2 linked regions of the Homo sapiens genome follow. The protein of the gene in region 1 interacts with the protein of each later gene in a pairwise test. Each region holds a gene or a part of one and is shown in the gene's direction. Other genes may lie near its edges.

Region 1 (3,170 bases):
ACCTTTGAGCTGTTATTTGGTTTTCTCTCCTTTGCTCCTAGCCTGCAGCTGGCTCCCCCCGGCCCTGGGTGGGAGCTGGTCCTGTCCCTAGGGGTGGCCCCTGGAGGGTGGGTGGAGTTCCAGCCTTGCCCCAGGGCTCTGGACGGAGTCTGGGCCTCCCACCCTCAGGACCCCCTTCCCTGCGGACCTGCAGGTCTGAGTAGCGACAGTGGCCTTGGGGGCAGCTCGGATGGCAGCTCGGACGTCCTGGCTTTCGGCTCGGGCTCTGTGGTGGACAGCGTCACTGAGGAGGGTGGGTGGCGTCTTGCCCTCGCCCGAGGCCCCTGCCCAGCCCCTGGGCAGCCCCGGGGGTTGCTTTCCCTGACCGCCCCCTCCCCACAGAGGGTGCAGAGTCGGAGGAGTCCAGCGGTGAGGCAGACGGGGACACTGAGGCCGAGGCCTGGGGCCTGGCGGACGTGCGCGAGCTGCACCCGGGGCTCTTGGCGCACCGCGCAGCGCGTGCCCGCGACCTTCCTGCGCTGGCGGCGGCGCTGGCCCACGGGGCCGAGGTCAACTGGGCGGACGCGGAGGATGAGGGCAAGACGCCGCTGGTGCAGGCCGTGCTAGGGGTGAGCGAGCCACGGGGGCTGCGCGCAGGACACAGGTGCACAGTCGCGTTTGCATCTTCTGTGGCGCCCACACAAGGGTCGCCTGTCCGCGGTGGGGACCACGTTCGGTCCCGGCTGGGGGCGCCCAAGGCCGGGGTCAGGGTGCAGAGGCGCGGAGAGGGGCCGGTGCCGTGGCTCCGTCTGAGTTGCCCCGGCTCCCCAGGGCTCCTTGATCGTCTGTGAGTTCCTGCTGCAAAACGGAGCGGACGTGAACCAAAGAGACAGCCGGGGCCGGGCGCCCCTGCACCACGCCACGCTGCTGGGCCGCACCGGGTGAGACGCGCAACCCACGCCCCGCCCTGTGCCCCGACCACGCCTACCCCGGCCCGGCTACGCCCTGTCCGCCATGCCCTATCCGGCCACGCCCCCGCGACCACACTCGCCCCGCCCCGCCCCGCCCCGACACGCCCCTCCGACCTCGCCCCTCAGCCAGGTTTGCCTGTTCCTGAAGCGGGGCGCGGACCAGCACGCCCTGGACCAAGAGCAGCGGGACCCGTTGGCCATCGCAGTGCAGGCGGCCAACGCTGACATCGTGACACTGTGAGCGCGGCCGGGCCCTCGGGGCTGGGCGGGGCCTCCAGGGCAGGGGCGGGGCCTCCAGGGCAGGGGCGGGGCCTCCAGGGCAGGGGCGTCTCACGCTGTGCCTCCCCGTAGGCTCCGTCTGGCGCGCATGGCGGAGGAAATGCGCGAGGCCGAGGCTGCCCCTGGTCCCCCGGGCGCCCTGGCGGGCAGCCCCACGGAGCTCCAGTTCCGCAGGTGTATCCAGGAGTTCATCAGCCTCCACCTGGAAGAGAGCTAGGGCCGGGCAGGCCGGGCAGCTGCCACCCCGCCCGGCCCGACGCCCCGCATGCCCCGAAGTCCCTGGCGCCCACCCGGCCGCGGCCCTGCGTGTGACCCGCGGGTCGATACCTGGCAGCCCCAGTGCTGGGGCGCCGCGGCCCTGCTCGCCCAGGAGGAGAGCGAGGGCCCCACACTGAGTCTCTTGAAGCCTCACGTTTCCCTGGGGGGGTGCTGCATCGTCGGGTGTCCCTCACCCCACCTGGGGAACCTCTGTCTTCAGGTCACCCCTTTTCAGGGGCCTGGGTTGCTCATGTCACAAGCCACTTTTAAGGCCCGTGTCACCTGTGTCCCTGTGTCCTCAGGGCCTGTGTTACTTCGTGCCCCACTTCTGCCCAGAACACTGACCTGTTAGCTGGCTCCCTCCTGCACACCCCAGAGCCTCCTCCCAGGGCAGAAAGGGTGGCCCATCCAGGGAACCAACGAGTACCTCACTTAGTGACCCCAGCATCCAGGCTGGCGTCGCGGGTGCTGGGCGGGAGGGGCTCTGGCCTGGGTCCTCAGCCCTGGCTGGACGCGGGCGTCCCAAGGCCACGTGGCTGGCCACGAAGGTCCCCGTGCCAGACAGCCCCAGCCGCATCCCGGCCTCCTCCGGAGGCACCTTCTCCTGGTACTCGGCCCAGAGCCTGCGCATAAAGCCACTTTGCCACTTTGCAGCCCTCATCTCATGTTCTTTGTAGCGGACCGAGTGGGTTTGCTATAGGCCTCGTCTGACTTTGTCTTGCGTCTTTTCTCTGTGGACTCTTGAGGACGCCTGAGCCCCAGCCCTGCCCCTGACCAGCCTCCCCCTTGGGTCCAGGGGTCTTTCGGCTCATATTGCAGGGCCTGCCAATGCCTTCACGCACCCCTTCCCCAAAGGTGCCCGGCAGGGAGGCAGGGCCTCCCCCACTCAGCGCAGGTCAGGCTAAGGCCAGTCGGCTGGTCACTATGCAATGCTGCCCTGGGGAGGCTCCCTGAGGGCACAGTGGGCGCTGGACCCGGCCCCCCAACTCTCTTGCCTGCTGCCTGTGACCCTGAAGAACAGAATTGATTCTTGCCCCTCTCCCTGTGTGAGCTTGGCCCCGCCTCTTGCCCCAGGCCCCTGCTGGCGGGTCTCACCCCCCACCCCTCGCTTTGAATAAAGCACTTGCGCCCACTGCCTGCTCCTGGGCTCCCGTGCCTTGCTCTGCTCTGTCTCCGGGGAGTGTCTGTGTCCCTTGCCCTCCCCGAGGGGCATTCCTGAGCCGGGTAGCACTCACTCAAGTCAGACTCCAACAGGCCGCAAGGGGCCTGATGGGGACCTGGGGCTCGTTTGACAAAATCTGGGTCCTGATGCCCCTGGTCCCCATTGTCTCGCCCTTCTACCCTTCTCTGTCCTAGACTGAGTTTCCTGGTGGGAAGAGGGGTGGACGCGAACCGGCGAGGCTAGGCTGGGGCTCGTCCCGCCAGGTGCAGTCAGGGTTTCAGCTCACCGGGCGCGGGGCGGCTGGAGGGGCACACAGGCACACACTGGCCGCCAGGTGGAGTCAACAGCTTTATTTCAGAGCAGCCCAAGTGTGTCCGTGGGGCCTGCCTTGCCTTCTGCCTCCCTGCAGCTGAGGTGGCTAGGCTTGACACACGTACACAGGTGCATCAGACGTGTGGACATGCAGACACAGACACACGGAGCATGGGTACATCACCGCGTGTCGGCACGTCCAGCCGCAC
Region 2 (3,650 bases), on another chromosome or scaffold:
GAGGATTTTTATCATGAAGGGATGTTGAATTTTATCAAGTGCTTTCTCAGCATTAATTGAAATGATTATATGATTTTTGTTCTTTATTCTGTTGATATAATTTATCACATTGATTGATTCACACATGTTGAACCATCCTTGCATCCCTGGGATAAATCCCACTTGGTCATGATGAATGACTGTTTTAATGTATTGTTGAATTTGCTTTACTAGTATTTTGTTGAGGATTTTTGCATCAGTATTCATTAGAGATATTGGCCTGTAGTTTTCTTTCTTTGATGCGTCTTTGTTAGTTTTGGTATCAGAGTAATACTGGCCTCATAGAGTGAGTTCGGAAGTATTCTCTCCTCTATTTTTGGGAACAGTTTGAATAGGATTAGAATGCTTCCTTAAATGTTTGGTAGAATTCAGCCATCAGGTCCTGGGCTTTTCTTTTCTTTATTTTATTTTATTTTATTTTTTAAGACACAGTCTCACACTGTCGCCCAGCCTGGAGTACAGTGGCGCGATCTTGGCTCACTGCAAGCTCCACCTTCTGAGTTCACGCCATTCTCCTTCCTCAGCCTCCCAAGTAGCTGGGACTACAGGTGCCCGCCACAATGCCCGGCTAATTTTTTGCATTTTTAGTAGAGACAGGGGTTTCACTGTGTTAGTCAGGATGGTCTTGATCTCCTGACCTCGTGATCCGCCTGTCTCGGCCTCCCAAAGTGCTGGGATTACAGGCATGAGCCACCACGAGGTCCTGGGCTTTTCTTTATGGGGAGGAAAAGAACTTTAGAATTCAGTAAAGTTGCAGGATACAAAATCAACATACAAAAATCAGTAGTATTTTATTATGACTTTGATCTTGTTACTTGTTATTGGTCTGTCTAGGTTTCAAATTTCTTCATGGATCAATCTTGGTGTTTTATATGTGTCTAGGAATTTATCCATTTCCTTTGGATTTTCCAATTTATTGGCATATAGTTGCTCATAGTAGCCGCAAATGATCCTTTGAATTTCTGTGGTATCAGTTGTAATGTCTCCTTTTTCATCTCTAATTTTATTTTATTATTTATTTATTTTTTTGAGATGTGGTCTGTCACCTAGGCTGGAGTGCAGTGGTGCAGTCGTGATGCACTGCAACCTCTGTCTCCCCTGGCTCAAGCAATCCTCCCACCTCAGCCTCCCAGGTAGCTGGGACCACAGGCATGCACCACCACACCTGGCTAATTTTTTATATTTTTGGTAGAGATGAGGTTTCACCATGTTGCCCAGGCTGGTCTCAAACTCCTGAGCTCAAGTGCCTGCCTCACCCTCCCAAAGTGCTAGGATTATAGGCATGAGCTACCTTGTCCAGCTGCCTCTGATTTTATTTATTTGGATCTTCTCTCTTTTTTCTTTTTTTTTTTTTTAGTATTTATTGATCATTCTTGGGTGTTTCTCGGAGAGGGGGATTTGGCAGGGTCATAGGACAATAGTGGAGGGAAGGTCCTCTCTTTTTCTTAGTCTGACTAAAGGTTTGTCAACTTTGTGTATCTTTTAAAAAAACCCAACTTTTTGTTTGAGTGACCTTATGTATTTTCATTTCAATTTCATTTATTTCTGCTCTAATCTTTATTATTTATTTTCTTCTACTAAGTTTTTTTTTTTTCCTTTTAAACAGAGTCTTGCTCTGTCATGCAGGCCGGAGCACAGGGACATGATTATAGTTCACTACAGCCTCAACCTCCTGGTGCCCAAGTGATCTTTCTACCTCAGACTCCTGAGTAGCTGGGACTACAGGTGTGCACCACCACGCCTGGCTAAGTTTTGTATTTTTTATAGCGATGAGGTTTTGCCATGTTGCCAAGGCTGGTCTCAAATTACTGGGCTCAAGCAATCTGCCGGCCTCAGCCTCTCAAATTGCTGGCCTCTTCTACTAATTTTGGGTTTGGTTTGCTCTTGCTTTTCTAATTCTTTAAGATGTGTTATTAGGTTACGTATTTGAAGTTTTTCCTCTTTTTTTGATGTAGGCATTTATAGCCGTAAGTTTCTGTCTTAGTACTGCTTTCACTGTATCTCATAGCTTTTGGTGTGTTGTGTTTCCATTATCATTTGTTTCATGAAATTTCTCAATTTCCTTAATTTCTTCATTGACCTATTGGTCATTCAGGAGCATATTGCTTAATTTCCATGTGTTTGTATAGTTTCCAAAATTCTTCTTGTTATTGATTTCTAGTTTACTTGTGGTCAGAGAAGATACTTGGTATCATTTCAGGGTTTTTGTTTTTTTTTTTTTGAGACAGGGTCTTGCTCTGTCTGAAGTGCAGTGGCATGATCTCGGCTCACTGCAACTTCCACCTCCTGGGTTCAAGCGATTTTCCTGCCTCAGCCTCCCAAGTAGCTGGGACTACAGGTGCACGCCACCATGCCCAGCTAATTTTTGCATTTTCAGTAGAGATGGGGTTTCGCCATGTTTGCCAGGCTGATCTCAAACTCCTGACCTCAGGTGATCTGCCCACCTCAGCCTCCCAAAGGGTTGGGATTACAGGCGTGAGCCACCGCACCCAACCTTTTTAATGTTTTAAGACTTGTTTTGTGACTTAACATGTGTTCTATCCTTGAGAATCATCCATGTGATGAGAAGAATATGTATTCTGCAGCAGTTGGATGAAATGTTCTGTAAATATCTATTAGGTCCATTTGTTCTATATTGCAGATTAACTCCAATGTTTCTTTGTTGATTTTCTGTCTGCACGATCTGTCCAATGCTGAAAGTGGGGTGTTGAAGTCTCCAGCTATTATTGTATTGAGGTCTCTCTCTTTCCCTGTAATGTTTAATTTATATATCTGGGTGCACCAGCACTGGGTACATATTTATTTATAGTTGTTATAGCCTCTTGAAGAATTGACCCTTTTATTATTATATAATGACCTTTTTTGTCTCTTCTTACAGTTTTTGTCTTGAAATCTATTTTGTCTGATATTAGTATAACTACTTTTGTCCTTGTTTGGTTTTCATTGGCGTGGAATATCTTTGTCCATCCCTTTATTATTTTTGGTCTATGTGTCTCTTTATAGGTGAAGTGTGTTTCTTGTAGGAAACAGATTCACTGGGTCTTGCTTTTTAATCCATTCAGCCAGTCTGTGTCTTTGGATTGGAGAATTTAGTCTGTTTACATTCAATGTTATCAATAAGTAAGGACTTCTGCCATTTTGTTACTTGTTTTCTGGTTGTTTTGTGGTCTTCTCTTCCTTTTTACCTTCCTTCTTGTCTTTTGGTAAAGATGATTTTCTCTTGTGGCATATTTAATTTCTTGCTTTGTGTGTGTGTGTATCTGTTGTATGTTTTTTGACTTGAGGTTACCATGAGGCTTGCAAATACTGTCTTATAACCCACTATTTTAAACTGATGACAACAAAGATTGCATAAACATGCAAAAAAGAAAACTAATAAAAACTCTACACTTTAACTTTATCTCTCTGCTTTTTAACTTTTTGTTGTTTCTCTTTACATCTATTGTACTGTCTACGTCTTGAAAATTTATTTTTGATTGGCTTATCATTTAGTCTTTCTACATAAGAGCAGTTTACACACCACAATTATAGTGTTATAATATTCTATGTTTTTCTATGTGCTTACTATCACCAGTGAGTTTTGTACCTTTAGATGACTTTTTTTTTTTTTA

What was found. The genes of interacting proteins can lie anywhere in the genome.
Region 2: the proteins of ACAP3 (region 1) and SLC35G2 interact in a two-hybrid assay, tested with the Homo sapiens proteins (one large-scale study listed by IntAct).

The regions. Positions count from the first base shown.
Region 1 is NC_000001.11:1,291,840-1,295,009, reverse strand, and holds the end of ACAP3 (arf-GAP with coiled-coil, ANK repeat and PH domain-containing protein 3), read left to right. Parts: intron 1-193; coding exon 194-292; intron 293-381; coding exon 382-608; intron 609-810; coding exon 811-920; intron 921-1,076; coding exon 1,077-1,187; intron 1,188-1,301; coding exon 1,302-1,446; 3' UTR 1,447-2,619; downstream 2,620-3,170. UniProt on the Homo sapiens protein: GTPase-activating protein for the ADP ribosylation factor family.
Region 2 is NC_000003.12:136,825,593-136,829,242, forward strand, and holds part of SLC35G2 (solute carrier family 35 member G2), read left to right. Parts: intron 1-3,650.